Regions from separate parts of the Homo sapiens genome. Here region 2 is linked to region 1. The links come from fine-mapping of genetic effects on gene expression. Tissue or cell type: whole blood. Region 1 holds a variant in brackets; the other region holds the start of a gene. All regions are shown on one strand. Distances are from middle to middle.

The links. PIP is the estimated chance that this variant, and not a neighbour inherited with it, causes the effect.
Region 2: COPS3 starts here. The variant in region 1 is fine-mapped to the expression of COPS3 in whole blood (INTERVAL, PIP 0.99).

Annotation. Positions count from the first base shown.
Region 1 is chr17:17,003,352-17,011,454 of GRCh38, forward strand. No RefSeq gene overlaps it. Among named protein-coding and RNA genes, the nearest start is that of LINC02090, 19 kb to the left of the region's middle. RefSeq lists enhancers at 1,383-1,911, 7,737-8,103. The variant T/C (reference allele first, on the strand shown) is at 4,290.
Region 2 is chr17:17,277,262-17,285,364 of GRCh38, forward strand. It overlaps COPS3 (COP9 signalosome subunit 3), which reads right to left and starts at 3,985. Exons shown (of 12, transcript NM_003653.4): 1 at 3,871-3,985. The coding sequence starts at 3,925. RefSeq lists enhancers at 3,373-3,432, 4,083-4,182 and a silencer at 3,623-3,862.

The sequences.
Region 1 (8,103 bases):
CCCGTTTCACAGAGGAGGATGTGGAGGTCAGAGTGGCTAAGACAACTGCTCAATGCCACTGGGCACCAGAGGGCAGATGGGGCTTGGGGGACCCTGATCCCACACTCACAGGACCCCTGTCCAGTGCGCTCCTGTGGGTAGATCAAGGCAAGGCTGCCTCTAGGACCACCTCCCTCTTGCCCCGCACCAGCCAGGCATCCTCTGGGCAGGGACCATGGCAACACGGCCCCCACCTGTGGCCGGGCCTTCTGGGTCCTCTCCAGGAGGTGTCTAGGCACCACGCTGTGGCATCAGCATCACACACAATGCTGAGATGAAAAGTCTTACGCAGGTGTCTTCGCACACCTGAGCAAACATTTCTACAGGAATAATTTCCCCCAGCGGGATTCTTGGATCAAAGGGAAGCACACATGATTATTCTAGAAGTTGACAGCCATTGTCCAATTGACACCCTCACCCACAGGGCTCTTTCCCCACATCCTTGGCAATACCAGGTCCTTGTTTTTAAATCTGTGCCGACCCGATGGGCAGAGAGTGGCACCTTGTCATGCTGTCTCCTGCCTGTTTGATCCAGGATTTTGTGGACCGTGGGTTTGGCAGCTGCTGGCACTTCTTCTGCACGTTCCCTTTTTGTGTCCTTTTCCAGATTGCTATTTCTTTGGGGCTTTTTTCTTAGTGATTTGTAGGGTGCTTTAAAATAAAATCTTCTGTCTGCCATGGTCTGTAGGTGACAAATATTTCTTCTCAGCTAATTGTTTTATTTTCAGCCATGTTGGTGGGGACTTTGTGATTGTTTTGTTTTTTGTGATTGGTCTTTGGAAGTTGCTCATGTTTGTGTAATCGGATTTGTCATTCTTTTCCTTTGTCATTTCAGAGTTTGTGTCAGGAATTCTTCCCTCTTCAACCCATTCCTCCACCTCCCTCCGCAGACTGGCCGGTGTTCTCTCTAGATCTGCCTCTCCCTCCATGCCATGCTCTCGGGCCCTTCGTGGTGAAGCCAGGTGGCCGTCCTCCTGCCCCTGCCCCTGAAGGAGAAAGCTCCAAGACCTGCTGTATTCATGTCCCCTTCCTGGAGGCCCACCTTCACGTGCCCACCTACCTCCTCAGCATGCCTGAGCCCCTATCGCTTTCCTCTCGCAGCAGCCTCAGGTGCAGAGCCCGGGGACTCTGGTCTGACACCGATGGCTTCTTAACTACAATCAGCACACCTGCTGCTCACCACCCTTGGCCAGGCCAAGCCACAGCCAGGCCCAGCCCTGGATTCGAGATTGTTATTTCTGCAAAATGGATCATCCAGGCATCTCTGGCTTGTCTCTGGCCCCCCCGCACCCCTCCACCACGCCCCTGGGCTGCTGCTGCTGATGTCTCCTTCCTGCCTACATCGGACCCAGTTCCCCCATGTTCATCCCTGGGGCTGGGCCACCTGCTGCTCCCCCTGGCTCATCCACTGCCCGTTACCAAGCCGCACACAGCTCATCGACCTACAGCCACACTTGTCACACCTCCTTGCAGACCACGAGTCCAGAGAAGCACGTGATGCAACCTCCCACACCTGACTCTTTTACAAACCAACAGGCCACTGGGAGGCTGCTCTCCTTGTCTCTGGGGTGGCAGCAGGGGAAGCAGGAGAATGAACAGCCTCCAAAACTTCTCCTCAGACGGAGCCGCCATGGAGGAACAAAGGGTCACCATCAACAAAGTCCATTTAGCCCAATCAGCCTCCTGCCCAGCAAACCAGGGAGGCATGCTCTGCCCTCAGCCCTCAGGTCCCAGGGGCCCGGCCCTGGCAGCCTCTTTGTTATTCCTGGCTCCCGGGACCAGGACTCTCAGGGTGCCCATGCCAGGGAGGCCTGCATGGCCGGGAGCAGGTATTTCCTTCTGTGCCCTCTGCGGGCTCAGGAAGACCCCACCCTGCAGGTGGCAGGAAGGGGCTGTGTTGAGCAAGGGGCCCAGCAGCTGGAGTGGGCCTGGGTCTAACTCTCCACTCCTGTTTGCATTGGCAAAGCACCGCAGCTGACACGGGCTGCGGGAGCACCACGCTCAGAGGAGCCGGCGACGGCTGTTTCCCAGCTGCTGTGCAATTTGCTGAGTTCAACACACATGTATTGACTGCCCACTGTGTTTTCTGTGCTCACTTGGAAATTCTGTTGAGCGCCTACTATGTGCTAGGCACTTGTCTGTGTGCTGGGGATATGGCCTGGGGCAAAGGTGTCAGTTCAGCTCCCCTGGGAAGTAGACAACAGGTTGGAGTTAGAGATACAAGAACTGTGTTAGGAGAAGGAGCTGTAAAGGAGAAAGGGGCGAGGGGCAGAGCAGTCAGGGAGAGCATGGAGCGCACCAAGCACAATGCTTGTGAAGGAGAGGGGCCACTGGAGAGCTGGGCGGGGGAGCCTCACCCGGCCCCAGGGGGTCTCTGGAGCAAAGATGGCCAGTACTGGGGTCCCAGGTTGGGCAGGATGATTTGAATGTGGCGGAAGATCCCCAAGTAGCTGGAGGCTGTCAGCTGACTGCACTTCTTGCAGAGGCTTCTCTCTTGAAGGCCGACCTGAGAAGAGCACCTCCATGGTGGCCACGGGAGATTAAATGCAGCTGCCATCCTGTGGAGGGGATGGACAACACACCAAGCAGCAACTGCACCCCCTTCTAGAACAGAGGCCCCAAATGACAGTGCTTCAAGAGAGGTGGGAGCTGGCTGTGCACAGTGGCTCATGCCTGTAATCCCAGAGCTATGGGAGGCCGAGGTGGGAGGCTCACTTGAGGCCAGGAGTTCAAGGCCTGCCTGGGCAACATAACGAGACCCCATTTCTACAAAAAATACCAAAAAAAAATTCAGCTGGACATGGTGGCATGTGGCTATAGTCCCAGCTACTCAGAAAGCTGAGGTGGGAGGATTGCTAGAGCCCAGGCTAGGCTGCAGTGAGCTATGATGGTGCCACTGTACTGCAGCCTGGGTGACAGAGTGAGACCCAGTCTCTTAAAAAAAAAAAAAAAATTATTAAGGGGAGGGCAAGCCCTTTTCCATACTTTCTTAACCCTGCTGTTTAGGATGTGGACATGATGGTGCACTGTCTTGAGCTACATGGACAAGAGAAACACCCTAGGGATGGGAGAGAGAAGGGTGGATCCCTGAATAACTGCATGGAGCAGAGTTGCCACCGCAGCCCTGAACTGCCCTGCCACCCCTAGACAGTGTGCTGGAGAAATGAACCTCTGTCTTGTTAAAGCCACTGTTGTTAGACGTAGCTAAACCTAGATCCTAAATACAAACATAGCATGTTCTTTTTTTTTTTTTTTTTTTTTCCTGAGGCGGAGTCTCACTCTTCGCCCAGGCTGGACTGCAATGGCACAATCTCGGCTCACTGCAACCTCCACCTCCCAGGTTGAAGCAATTCTCCCACCTCAGCCTCCCAAGTAGCTGGTATTACAGGCGTGCGCCACCACGCCTGGCTAATTTTTGTATTTTTAGTAGAGACGGGGTTTCACCACATTGGCCAGACTGCTCTCGAACTCCTGACCTCAAGTAATCCGCCTGTCTCAGCCTCCCAAAGTGCTGGGGTTCCAGCCACTGCACCCCTCCACACATAGCGTGTTCTTTTTGTCCACATAAAACTTACCATCTTGACCATCGTGAAATGCACAGTTCAGTGGCACTAAGCACAGTCTCATTGTTGTGCAACCATTACCATCGTCCATCTCAAGAACTTTTTCGCCGGGTGCGGTGGCTCACGCCTGTAATCTCAATGCTTTGGGAGGCCAAGGTGGGCAGATCACAAGGTCAGGAGATCGAGGCCATCCTGGCTAACACGGTGAAACCCCGTCTCTGCTAAAAATACAAAAAATTAGGCGGGCGTGGTGGCGGGCGCCTGTAGTCCCAGCTACTCAGACGCTGAGGCAGGAGAATGGCGTGAACCCAGGAGGCGGAGCTTGCAGTGAGCCGAGATAGGGCCACTGCACTCTAGCCTGGGCGACAGAGCGAGACTCCGTCTCTTAAAAAAAAAAAAAAAGAACTTTTTCATCTTCCTCAAATTGAAACTGTCTCCAATGAACAGTAAACAGTAACTCCCCATTCCCCTTCCCTTAGCTCGTATAAGTGGAATCATATAGAGTTTGTCTTTTCACGGAATATTACGCCCTCACGTTCTTCCATATTGTAGCATGTGCCAGAATTTCCTTCCTTTGTAAGACTGAATAATATTTCATTGTACGCACAGACCACATTTTTGTTTATCGATGGTCATTTGGGTGGCTTCCACCTTTTCGTTGTTGTAAAGAATGCTGCTATAGTGAGC[T/C]GAGATCACGCCACTGCGCTCCAGCCTAGGCAACAGAGTGAGACTCCGTCTCAAAAAAAAAAGAATGCTGCTATAAACATGGGTGAACAAACATCTGTTGGAGACCCTGATCTCAATTATTTTTGGGGTATTTTTTGGTATATACCCAAAAGCGGAATTACTAGATTATATGGTAATTCTGCACAGTGACTTTTCCACTAGTGTTTAACATGGTGTCTTGACAGAATAGCTGTAAGATTACACTGAAAAAGCAGCAGGGGAAGTGCTGTGAAGGCGGCCCATGAGCTTGTAGGAAAGGCGGTCAGCAGCACACCTCCACTGTAATGGGTTTGTTTACCCGCTAGCCTACCAACAGCTGCAGGCCCCTTTCCTGGCCCTGGCCCTGCCCCTGCCCCACATTGCTCCCCACATTAGACCCAGCTGTGCTGCACCTCTGCCCTTCTGCCCCGGCTCCTGCTTGTTACAGGGAAGGGCTGGAGGGCTCTTTGTCCAGGTTTGTCATCCAATATGAGCACTCAGTGCACACGGATGGCTTTACCTGGCACTCAGCCAGTGAACTCAGCATCTGCTCCGGCCCTTTAGCACTGAGCTAGGCTATCTACCTTCATAGGCCAATCACAGGTTGTCACAGGTAAATGACCACATGTGGTTTGTGCCTCACTTTCTGACTTTGGAACATAATCCCCTGGTAGGGGTGGGGGAGGGCCATTTTTCTGGAGCTTCCTCCTATTTTCAAGCTTTATCATGCAGAACAAAACCTTCTAAGCAGAAGCCTCAATGTCCTCTTTCTGTGGGTTGCATGTGTCCCCCAAAAGGCGTGTATTCAACACTTAATCCCCGGTGCAATGGTATTGGGAGCTGGGGCCTAATAGGAGGTGTTTAGGTTATAAGGTGCCCACCGTCACGCATGGGTTAATGCTGATTATAAAAGGCCTTGAGACTGTGAGTTTGGTCTCTTACCCTCCTGATTTCCACCATGGGATGAGGCAGCAAGAAGGCCCTCACCAAATGCTGGGCTCAGGCCAGCACCATGCCCTTGGGCTTCCCAGCCTCCAGAATTATGAGCCACATAAATGTCTGATTATTATAAATGACCCAGTCTCAGGTATTCTGTTATAGCAGCACGAAATGGACTCAGACATCTGTCTGCCAGCCCTGCCCTCCTGAGGGCTGGAATGCCGTTCGCTGCACTTCCCAGCCTCTCTACTTTGCCTCACACTGACTTCCCTCCCTGGAACCAGCAGTTCCTGCTTATTTGGGCGTTTTCAGATCTTACTGATCTTTCAAGGGCACCTCCTCTGTGAACTTACCTGGGTCCTTCCCAGCTTGGAGGGATCTCACAGCACATTCTGTAGCCAGTACCATGTTCTACCGTCTCTTCTAAAGCACAGTTCCTGGGCCAGAGCCCCAGCATGGCCTGCAGGCTGCAGGAAATGTGAATTCCAAGGCCCCCCTAGACCTCCTGATTCAGAAACTGGTGGTGGAGCCAACAATCTGTGTCTTATTGGCATAGATAGTTCTAGGTCTACCAGGCTGCCAGGAGGCCTCAATGGCTTGACAATCATGGGGCACGAAGCAACGCCCGCGAGTCAGCAGCAGGGGGTCCCAGCTGGTCTCCCCAAGGGTTCTTCTTCCCTCCTCTTCTTCTTAAAGTGTGGGAAAATTTACAGCAAAGTACACAAATGTTGGTGTGCAAATCAATGCCTTTTAACAAATGTGTCCACCCCGTCATCACACCCCAGATGAAGACATGGAACATTTCCAGGACCCCAGAAAGCTCCCTGGTGCCTCCTTCCCGTCAATAACCCCATCCTCCACCAGCCCCACCAAGAAACCACCACCAGGACTTCTGTCTCCATAGATGACTTTTGCCTGTTTTTTTTTTGTTTTTTTTTTTTGAGACGGAGTCTCGCTCTGTCACACAGGCTGGAGTGCCGTGGCACCATCTCGGCTCACTGCAAGCTCTGCCTCCCGGGTTCACGCCATTCTCCTGCCTCAGCGCGTGAGTAGCTGGGACTACAGGCGCCCGCCGCCCCGCCCGGCTAATTTTTTGTATATTTAGTAGAGAAGGGGTTTCACTGTGTTAGCCAGGATGGTCTCGATCTCCTGACCTCGTAATCCACCTGCCTCAGCCTCCCAAAGTGTTGGGACTACAGGCGTGAGCCACCGCACCCAACCTTGCCTGTTTTTGACCTCCATACTGTGCATGCTCTTTTGCGTCTGGATTCTTTTGTCTGACTTTATCTGCGAGATTCATCTAACTTGTTGCATGGAAGAGTCATTTGGTCTTTTCCTCTGCTATGCAATGCAGGAGAACATTTGTTTGTTTTTAGTTTATAGAATGCAGTAAGTTTTCTTTTGGTGGACATCAGCACTTGTTTCTCTTGGGTGTCTGACCCTTTCCCATGCTTTCCAACCCTAGCTTCTAAGCTCTCTGAGGGTACAGAGTTTGCCTCTGTCTATCCTGGCCTGACACGCAGTCTCCTCCTGTCAGCATTTACTCAGTCCAAATTGCAACAGGGGCAGGTCCCTGCCAGCTGAGGGAGCTATTCTTCCAGCTCAGCAGGGGGTTGGCCAGTCTTGTCCTCTGGGACAAAGCCCAGCCAGAGTTCTGGGCACTGTGGTTCAGAAGGCCTGAGACACGTGGTTTTACCAGGGCTGGGTACCAAGAACCATGCTTGAGGCTGACGGCATTTCATTGGCAGCGTCTGTGGGGGGCTTGGGGACTCAGCCGTGGGAAGCCTGTTCTGCACACAGCCATGGCGCAAGAAATGCTTTTTCCTGCGACGGTTCAGTGAGAACCATGATGGCAGTGGTGCAGCATCCTCCCAGCTTGGTTTTTAAACATGGGAAGGGCTTCTAAAAAGTCACACAGCTGGTTAATGTTTGAACCAGGGTGGCACAGGTTTGTGCGAAGCAGTGAGTGGAGCTGTCTGAATGCCAGGAGGAGGGTCACCCTGGAGGCGGGTGACACAGGGGTCAGTGCAGGTCAGAGGCAGAGGCTGGGCCCAGATGCCATGCGAGCTCCAGGCCACTTTCCCAGAGAAGTGAGCGGCGGCCAGGCTGCCGGAGGCTGTGTGGCCTCTTCAGGCCCTCACTGGTCCTGATTTTGAGGGGTGACTCATGCCGGCTTGGACATCCACTTCTGGCTCAAGTTGCTCTGGGTTCCTCCACACAGACCAGAGGGATTCCTGCGTCACAGGAATCCAGGAAGGGGTGGGGGGAGTTGCAGGTTGAGAAGACAGAGGTGAGTGGCCCCCGGGCCCCTCCCCTGTTGAGTCACGGGAAGGGAATGGAAATAGTGTGTGCTGAAGCTGAGTCAGGGCCCAGCCTCACCTTCTCGGGACCTCATATGGGCTCTGAGGCGAGAGGCCCACCTGTCCCCCCCTCCTTGCTGCCTCCTCTCCCAAGCATGAGGAGGGCGAGCAGGAAGGATTTAGGTTAGCTCTCAAGAAGGACTTCCTGAATCGCGCCAGGCGACACTGAGAGGCATCTCTCAAAGGAAGTTGTGAAATCTTCCTTGGGACCAATTTGAGGTTTGGTCTGGGTCCAACCAGGACTATCTTTATGGCTCTAGAATATTTTCAAGTGTTAGACATTCCTTCCTCGACATGACTCAGGGAGCATCCGATGTGTGCCAGGCCTGGTGGCAGGAGCAGGGCCAGCTGAGTGTGGGACATGCCCCACTCTGGGGGTCTTCTCTAGGTCAGCATTACAGCAGCCTTGGAGAAGACGGCTCCCACCCCTTCCGTCCTCCCCTCTCCTGGCTCCCTTGGGCAGCCTGCTCTGCCAGCCACACCACACTCCACTTTCG
Region 2 (8,103 bases), 270 kb after region 1:
ACTGTAGTGGTTAGGTATTTCAGTAAACTCAGGTGGAGGGATTGTCCCTTTCTCCAGCTCTAGAATACATCACCTGCTTAGCAGTTCATCAAGCAGCTACTTGTTGAATTAATCTCCTAATTGATCTATTTTTCCCCTATACTGCAATACTATGTTTGTTTTGTTTTGTTTTTTGAGACAGGGTCTCATTCTGTCGCTCAGGCTGCAGTGCAGTGGTGTGATCACAGCTCAACGCAGCCTCCATCTCCTGGGCTCAAGCAATCCTCCCACCTTAGCCTCCCGAGTAGCTGGAACTACAGGTGTACGTCACCATGCCCATCTTATTTTTTAAGTTTTTTGCAGAGACAGGGGTCTCACTATGTTGCCCAGTCTGGTCTCTAACTCCTGGGCTCAAGCAATCCTCCCACCTTGGCCTCCCAAAGTGCTGGGATTAGAGGCATGAGCCACCACACTCAGCCTGCAATGCTACATTTTAACAACTAAGGTACAGAATCTATTAATAATTAGGCCTCAGCCGGGTGCTGTGGCTCACACCTGTAATCCCAGCACTTTGGGAGGATAAGGTGGGCAGATCTCTCGAGGTCAGGAGTTCAAGACCAGGCTGGCTCACACCTGTAATCCCAGCACTTTGGGAGGATAAGGTGGGCAGATATCTCGAGGTCAGGAGTTCAAGACCAGGCTGGCCAACATGGTGAAACCCTGTCTCCACTAAAAATACAAAAATTAGCTGGGTGTGGTGGCACACACCTGTAATCCCAGCTACTCGGGAGGCTGAGGTGGGAGAATCCTTTAACCTGGGACAATCCTTGAACCCGGGAGATGGAGGCTGCAGTGAGCTGAGATTGCGCCACTGTACTCCAGCCTGGGCAACAGAGCAAGACTCCGTTTCGGGGGAAAAAAAAAATTAGGCCTGAATTGGTACCTTTAAGTAGACCCATCAATTTTGACAATTACTGTCATGACAGATACCATGGTCACACTCTGTCTTTCTGGTAACAGTGAGGATATATTTAAGTCCATGGGCATTAACCTCAAGTTTCCAACTTCTCTATTTCTACAGAGCAACTGCATAATCTTTTCCTTACTAAAAGAATACAACATAGTATAATGCTTAAAATACAAGTGACTATAGCTAGGTACTTTTGATAATTTAACACTTTTCAATTTGATACATTTTACTGAAAGCAAAGGAAATGTATCATTATTATACATGCATTACAAAACAAGAATAAAACAGCTGTGATCTTATTAGGTGTCACCTCTTGAGATCACACAGATTTAACTGGGAAATACCAACTCATCATCATTGTATTACAGATCTCACTGGTAGGTATGAAGTAACTTCTAGTTGAATAATTTGCCTTTGTAAACCATTACTCTAAATATATTAACAATAATTTGTAACACCCAGAAATAAGCATTGCAATCCATTAGTTCTCTACTAGTTAACAATCAGTGCCCAGTTGAGACTGAAATAAAAGCTGGGTCACTATGAAATCACCAGATAATTAATTAGTGCAGGGCCAAGGGCAGAGTAAAAAAAAAAAGTTTAAGTGTCACAGAGTGCATTTGAAATCAGTGTAACCAGAGATGTGGCCAATAAAATTCTTTTTTTTCTTTTTTTTTTTTTTGAGACGGAGTCTTGCTCTGTCACCCAGACTGGAGGGCAGTGGCGCGATCTTGGCTCACTGCAAGCTCCACCTCCCAGGTTCATGCCATTCTCCTGCCTCAGCCTCCCGAGTAGCTGAGATTACAGGCGCCCGCCACCATGCCTGGCTAATTTTGCATTTTTAGTAGAGACAGGGTTTCACCATGTTGGCCAGGGTGGTCTTGAACTCCTGACCTCAGATGATCCGCCCGCCTCGGCCTCCCAAAGTGCTGGAATTACAGGAGTGAGCCACTGCGCCTGGCCTGAAACTCAAAGATTTCCTATCCAGTGAGTGTGAGGCACAGTAGCCGACAGCAATGAAAGTTACCATATTTATCTCTGTCTAGCAGACTGTTCCTATAGCATCCTATAACCTGAAGACCACAACAGCCCTAGTTCTGTTTTGTAATTAAGAAAATTGGCCCAGGGAAATTAAGTGGTTCACCCAAGAAGTGACCGCGACAGGATTTCAACCTGAAGCTTCTAACTACACTACACCCCAGGAAGGAGAACACTAAGTATTTGTCGAATAAATTAACAAACCAGTGGTTCCTTTATTCATAGAAAAGGCAAGCCTGTGCCTTCCCTGTGAACCTCATTTCTATTAATAAAAAGGAAAAAGAGGAAGAATTCTTATTAAGTGCAGCTCCATATCAGACCATTTGTCTTACACCAGTGAGGTAAAAGCACCCCTCCATTTTTACAATGGAGATGCAAAAGACTCAGAGATTAAAGGTTATTTGTCCAAGGTCAAGCAGCTCCTAGAACTTTGCAATTAATGACGGTAACAATAATTTGCAGCTATATTTATTGCACCCCTTATGACAGGCACTGTTCCAACTGCTTTTACATGGTTTCTCTCATTGAATCTTCACAACTCTACATAAACTAGGGACTTATTTTGCAGACGAAGAAACTGAAGCACGGGATAGTTAAAAGGGCCTTCACAGCCAGCATCTAATCATTCGAATTTCAGGTCCAGAATTCGGTACATTCATACGCAATGAATGAACCAAACAACCTGGAAAGTGCGAGTAAAATCATCACAATTCTACCCCTAGAAATGGAGTCCTGGCCGGGCGCAGTGGCTCACGCCTGTAATCCTAGCACTTTGGGAGGCCGAGGTGGGCGGATCACTTCAGGTGAGGAGTTCGAAACCAGCTTGGCCAACATGGTAAAAACCCCATCTCTATTAAAAATACGAAAAAATTAGCCGCGTGGGCTGGCCGCGGTGGCTCATGCCTGTAATCCCAGCACTTTGGGAGGCCGAGGCCAGTGGATCACCTGAGATCAAGGTTCGAGACCAGCCAGGCCAACATGGTGAAACCCTGTCTCTACTAAAAATACAAAAATTAGCCGGGCAGGCGCCTGTAATCCCAGCTACTCGGGAGGCTGAGACAGGAGAATCGCTTGAACCTCGAAGGCGAAGGTTGAGGTGAGCCGAGACCGCGCCACTGCACTCCAGCCTGGGAGACAGTGAGACTCCGTCTCAAAAAAAAAAAAAGCCGTGTGAGCTGGCGGGCGCCTGTAATCTCAGCTACTCGGGAGGCTGAGACAGGAGAATCGCTTGAAGCCGGGAGGCTGAGGTTGCAGTGAGCCGAGATCGCGCCACTGCACTCCAGCCTCGGCTAAAAAAAAACAAAGAAGAAGAAATGGAGTCCTACGAGCGAGAGCTTCCGCAGCATTCTGTAGGACCAAAATAGGCGCACAGGTTCCCGAGCGTGCGCCGCCTGGCAGCGGAGGAGCTGGCAGAGGCGAGCCATAGAGCCAAGACACCCAGAACGGACTCGCCTCCCGCCCGCTCCCGGCGGCCTAGTCAGCAAGCTGCGGATCGGCGGCAAAGATGACATGGCGGTGCGCCAATCACCGAAGGCAAGAGAGACAGAAGGAACCAATAGTCGCCCGAGATGGCTCCTGGCGGAAGTCACGCCCCCAAACTGTCAAGCAAAGCGCCCGGTGGAAGGGGCCCAGGCCGGGGGGAGGGGGCTCCCGGCGGCCCGAGGGAGGGGAGGCCGGCCGGCGAGGACAGCGGAGCGCGAGGGGGCTGCCTACACTCGGCCGCGCTCGATCCTGCCCTGATCTAAACGCCGCAACCCCAAGCCCGGCCCCGGAGAAGAGTCTCAGGACTAAAAGGGCTGTTCCAGCCGTCCGTGCTGGCGCCTGGGGATCCAGGCCAGTTCCCGGTACCCGCCCATGCCCAGCCCGGCGGCCTAGGGCGTTACCTTGAGCTGAGAGCTGTCGGACACTGTTCACGAACTGCTCCAGGGCAGACGCCATGTTTTCCCCCGGGCGGCCCGAGCGGCGAAGGCAGCACGCGCGGGAAAAGGCTGCCGCTCTGGGAGGAGGGGCCGCGGCGATCCACCTGAGGTCCTCGCGAGCGGCGACGTCACTTCCGCTGGTTCAAGCACCGCGAGACTATACCTAGCTGCCCACCCGTTACTGTTTCCATGGAAACAGCCTGAATTCGCCGTAGCCGGAAATTAGTGTTCCATAGTCCCCTGCATCTTTATTCACTGCACTTCTGAAATCCCTCCGCAGGTTAAATGGGGATAGTGGGCAAAAGAAGGAAGGAAACTCATAATTAAGCAAGTATTTTCTGGTTCTGGATTTTGCTAGAGAGGCCCTGCGGTTTTCCACCTGGACAGATACTTCAATGAAGCACAACTTCGTTGCCACGTCTCCCGTGAGGTTTTCCCCGTGATATTAGACTCTGGAGCCAAGCAGCCTGGGTTCAACTGCCTTTTCTACCACTTAGTAGCTGTGTGACGTTGAGCGGGTCACTTGACTGTCGTGTGCATTGTTTTCCCCATCTGTAAAATCTTAGTGTCCTTAACCACGTAAAACACTTAGGACAGTGCATAGGACGTAGGGAGAACTATAGTTATTCATTCAAGGTGTACGTTGAATGAATCGATCCCTTCCCTGCAAAAAATAAATAAATAAGTAACACCACACACAGAAAGTGAATTGATTTTTCCCATCTGGGATTGATGTCTCCCTCCTCCGCTTGTCGCCTAAAGCACTTTGTTCTTCTCATGTTGCACTTCTACTCTGTTACAGAAATGTGTCTCTATAGTCCATGTGATATCTGTAAACCAAAAATAAAAGTCTAAGCCCCCCAACTGACTGGTGGACCCTATCTGAAGCCAAGGACATTCCAATTTATCCTGAAAAACTAGTTCAGGCCATGATGGGAAGTGGTAGTCAGACATGCCTCACAAACATCAACACAGAGACCTTAAGACTGGTAGACTCAAGACTGATAAGAAATATTTACAATCTATTCTGTCTGAATAGCAGGCTACCTGGAAGCCTCATCTGCATGATAAAACCTTGGTCTCCACAACCCCTTATAATCATAACCCAGATATTTCTTTCTATTTACTTCCAGGTCTTTAGATAATAACTCTTTCAACCAATTACCAATCAAAAAATCTTTAAGTCTACCTATAAGGTAGAAGCCCCCCACTGCCCCGAGTTAGCCCGTCTTTCCGATCCTAACCAACGTACATCTTACATGTATTGATCGATGACTCATGTCTCCCTAAAATGTATAAAACCAAACTGTACCCGCACCTTGGGCACATGTCCTGAGGAGCTCCTGAGGCCGTGTTATCATCGCATCCTTCACCTTGGCAATATAAACTTTCTCGATTGAGACTGGTCTCAGATACTTTTGGTTTACGGATCCATTGCTTCTAACTGGCATGGAGTTCCTTAAGGTCAAGCATTTCTCTTACTAACCTTGGTTCCCCTTTAGGGCCCAGCATAGGATTTGCTGCATAGTAGGGACTGAGAAAATAAACATGCATTTTAAAATTTTATCCAACATATGTTTACTGACACTTACAATGTGTTGTACCAGGCACTAGAAATACAGTGGTAGTAAAAACAGTCTTGGGGCCTGGTGCAGTCTCTCACGCTTGTAATCCAGCACTTTGGGAGACTGAAGCAAGTGGATCACTTGAGGTCAGGGGTTGGACACCAGCCTGGCCAACATGGTGAAAAGCCATCTCTACTAAAAATACTACAAAAATTAGCTGGGCTTGGTGATGGGTACCTGTAGTCCCAACTACTCGGGAGGCTGAGATGGGAAAACCTCTTGAACCCGGGAAGTGGAGGTTGCAGTGAGCCGAGATGGCACCACTGCACTCCAGCATGGGCGACAGAGCAAGAATCTGACTCAAACAAAACAAAACAAAACAAAACAGTTTCGGTCCTTCTCTCCTGCAGACAACACATGAAGACCCTAGATAAAAGGAGTTAGTGGTCTGAAGGAATGGAACATGGTTCTATAAAATCATGTCACAGAGGAGATTGACCTGGCTTGGGAGAAACAGGGAAGGCTTTCTTGAGGAAATGGCATAAACTGAGCAACGAAGAAAGAGGAAGAGTTAATAAGATAAGGGGGAAGGAATATTTCTGAGTGAGAGGACAGTATGGTGCTAAGACCCTGCAAGTGAAAGGAGCATGCTAGTTGAGAATGAAGAACTGAAAGAATGTCCTTGTGGTTGGAGGGGAGTAGTTTGTAAGGTGGACAGGGGCCAGGTCATGTAAGCTGTGTTAAAGGTACTGGACTTTTTCCTGAGAAGATTGGGAGGACTGGAGAGTTTTATGCAAGCGGTGGCAGGATCAAATTTGCGTTTTAGGACCGGGCGTGGTGGCTCACGCCTGTAATCCCAGCACTTTGAGAGGCTGAGGTGGGTGGATCACGAGGTCAGGAGTTCAAGAGCAGCCTGGCCAGAAAGATGAAATCCTGTCTCTAGTAAAAATACAAAAAATAGCCGGGTGTGGTGGCGTGTGCTTGTAATCCCAGCTACTCAGGAGCTGAGGCAGGAGAATCGCTTGAACCAGGGAGGTGGAGGTTGCAGTGAGCTGAGATCAGGCCACTGCACTCCAGACTGGACAATAAAAAGAGACTCAACTTCAAAAAACAAAACAACAACAACAAAAATTGCATTTTAAAAAGATTTGTCTGGCTTCACATGGATAACTTGGGAGACAGGAAGCTATTGCAATAGTCAACATAAAATAGAATAGTAATAATTATACTTTAAATAATTATACCTTGAATGCTAATAGTTTTACTCTTACCAGGAGTTCGAGACCAGCCTAGACAACACAGCGTGACTTTGTCTCTACAAAAAAAATTTTAAAAACTAGCTGGTTGTGGTGGTGCATGCCTATTGTCTCAGCTACTCTGGAGGCAGAGGTGGGAGGACCACTTAAGCCCAGGAATTTAAGGCTGCAATGAGCTATGATCTCGCCACTGCACCCCAGCCTGGGTGACAGAGTAAGACCCTGTTTCTTTCAAATAAATAGTAATAATAATAGTTCTTTCGAAAGTGTAGATAAATTCACCAGGATAAATTGGTGAACTTGAGACATGTTTAGATGAATGACTGTAGCACTTGTACTCTAAGATGGAAATGCTCCTGAATGTTCTATGGAAGCAATTGGTCCTTAATCTTTGATCATTTGCAACACACAAGACAGACATTTTGACTTATGGGACACATTTCCATGGATATACATGGATTTTGGTGAAAGCCAAAAATGTTGAAGATAAGTAAAGCACTACAATAATTCAAAGTAGCCACAGCTACTAATAATACTTTGATTGTTTATTTATTATTGCCTATTTAGGTTGTGGCAGCTGCTCTCAAACTGTGACTCCACCAATCAGCAGCGTCAGCGTCATTTGGGATCTTCTTGGAAATGCACATTCTTGGACCCCACTGTAGACTTCCTATATCAAGAGCTCTGAAACTGGGCACGGACCCTCACGCCTATATAAAAATTAGCCAGGCGGTAGTGGTGCACACCTGTAATCCCAGCTACTTGGGAGTCTGAGGCAGGAGAATCGCTTGAGCCTGGGAGGTGGGGGTTGTGGTGAGCTGAAATCATGCCACTGCGCTCCAGTCTCGGTGAGAGAGTGAGACCCTGTCTCGAAAAAAAAAAAACGGTGATTTCCAGAAATCTGAGCTTAACAAGCCTGCAGGTAATTCTGATGGTGCTAAATTCTGAGAGCATCTGGACCGTGGCCTCCAGATGAGCCAGCATGCAAATAACATTTCAAAACAGCTAAAAGCTAAATTCAAAACAGCTAAATTCCACCCTTCTCTTTCCTCTCAAAAACAAATGACTGAAAGAGACGTGATTATAGGGATAAACCTGAATATATTCTAACTTGTTTTTTTTTTTTTTTTTTTTTTTTTTGAGACGGAGTCTCACTCTTTCGCCCAGGCTGGACTGCAGTGGCGCTATCTTGGCTCACTGCAAGCTCTGCCTCCCGGGTTCACGCCATCCTGCTGCCTCAGCCTCCCAAGTAGCTGGGACTACAGGCGCCTGCCACCACACTCGACTAATTTTTTGTATTTTTATTAGAGACGGGGTTTCACCGTGTTAGCCAGGATGGTCTCGATCTCCTGACCTCATGATCTGCCTGCCTCGGC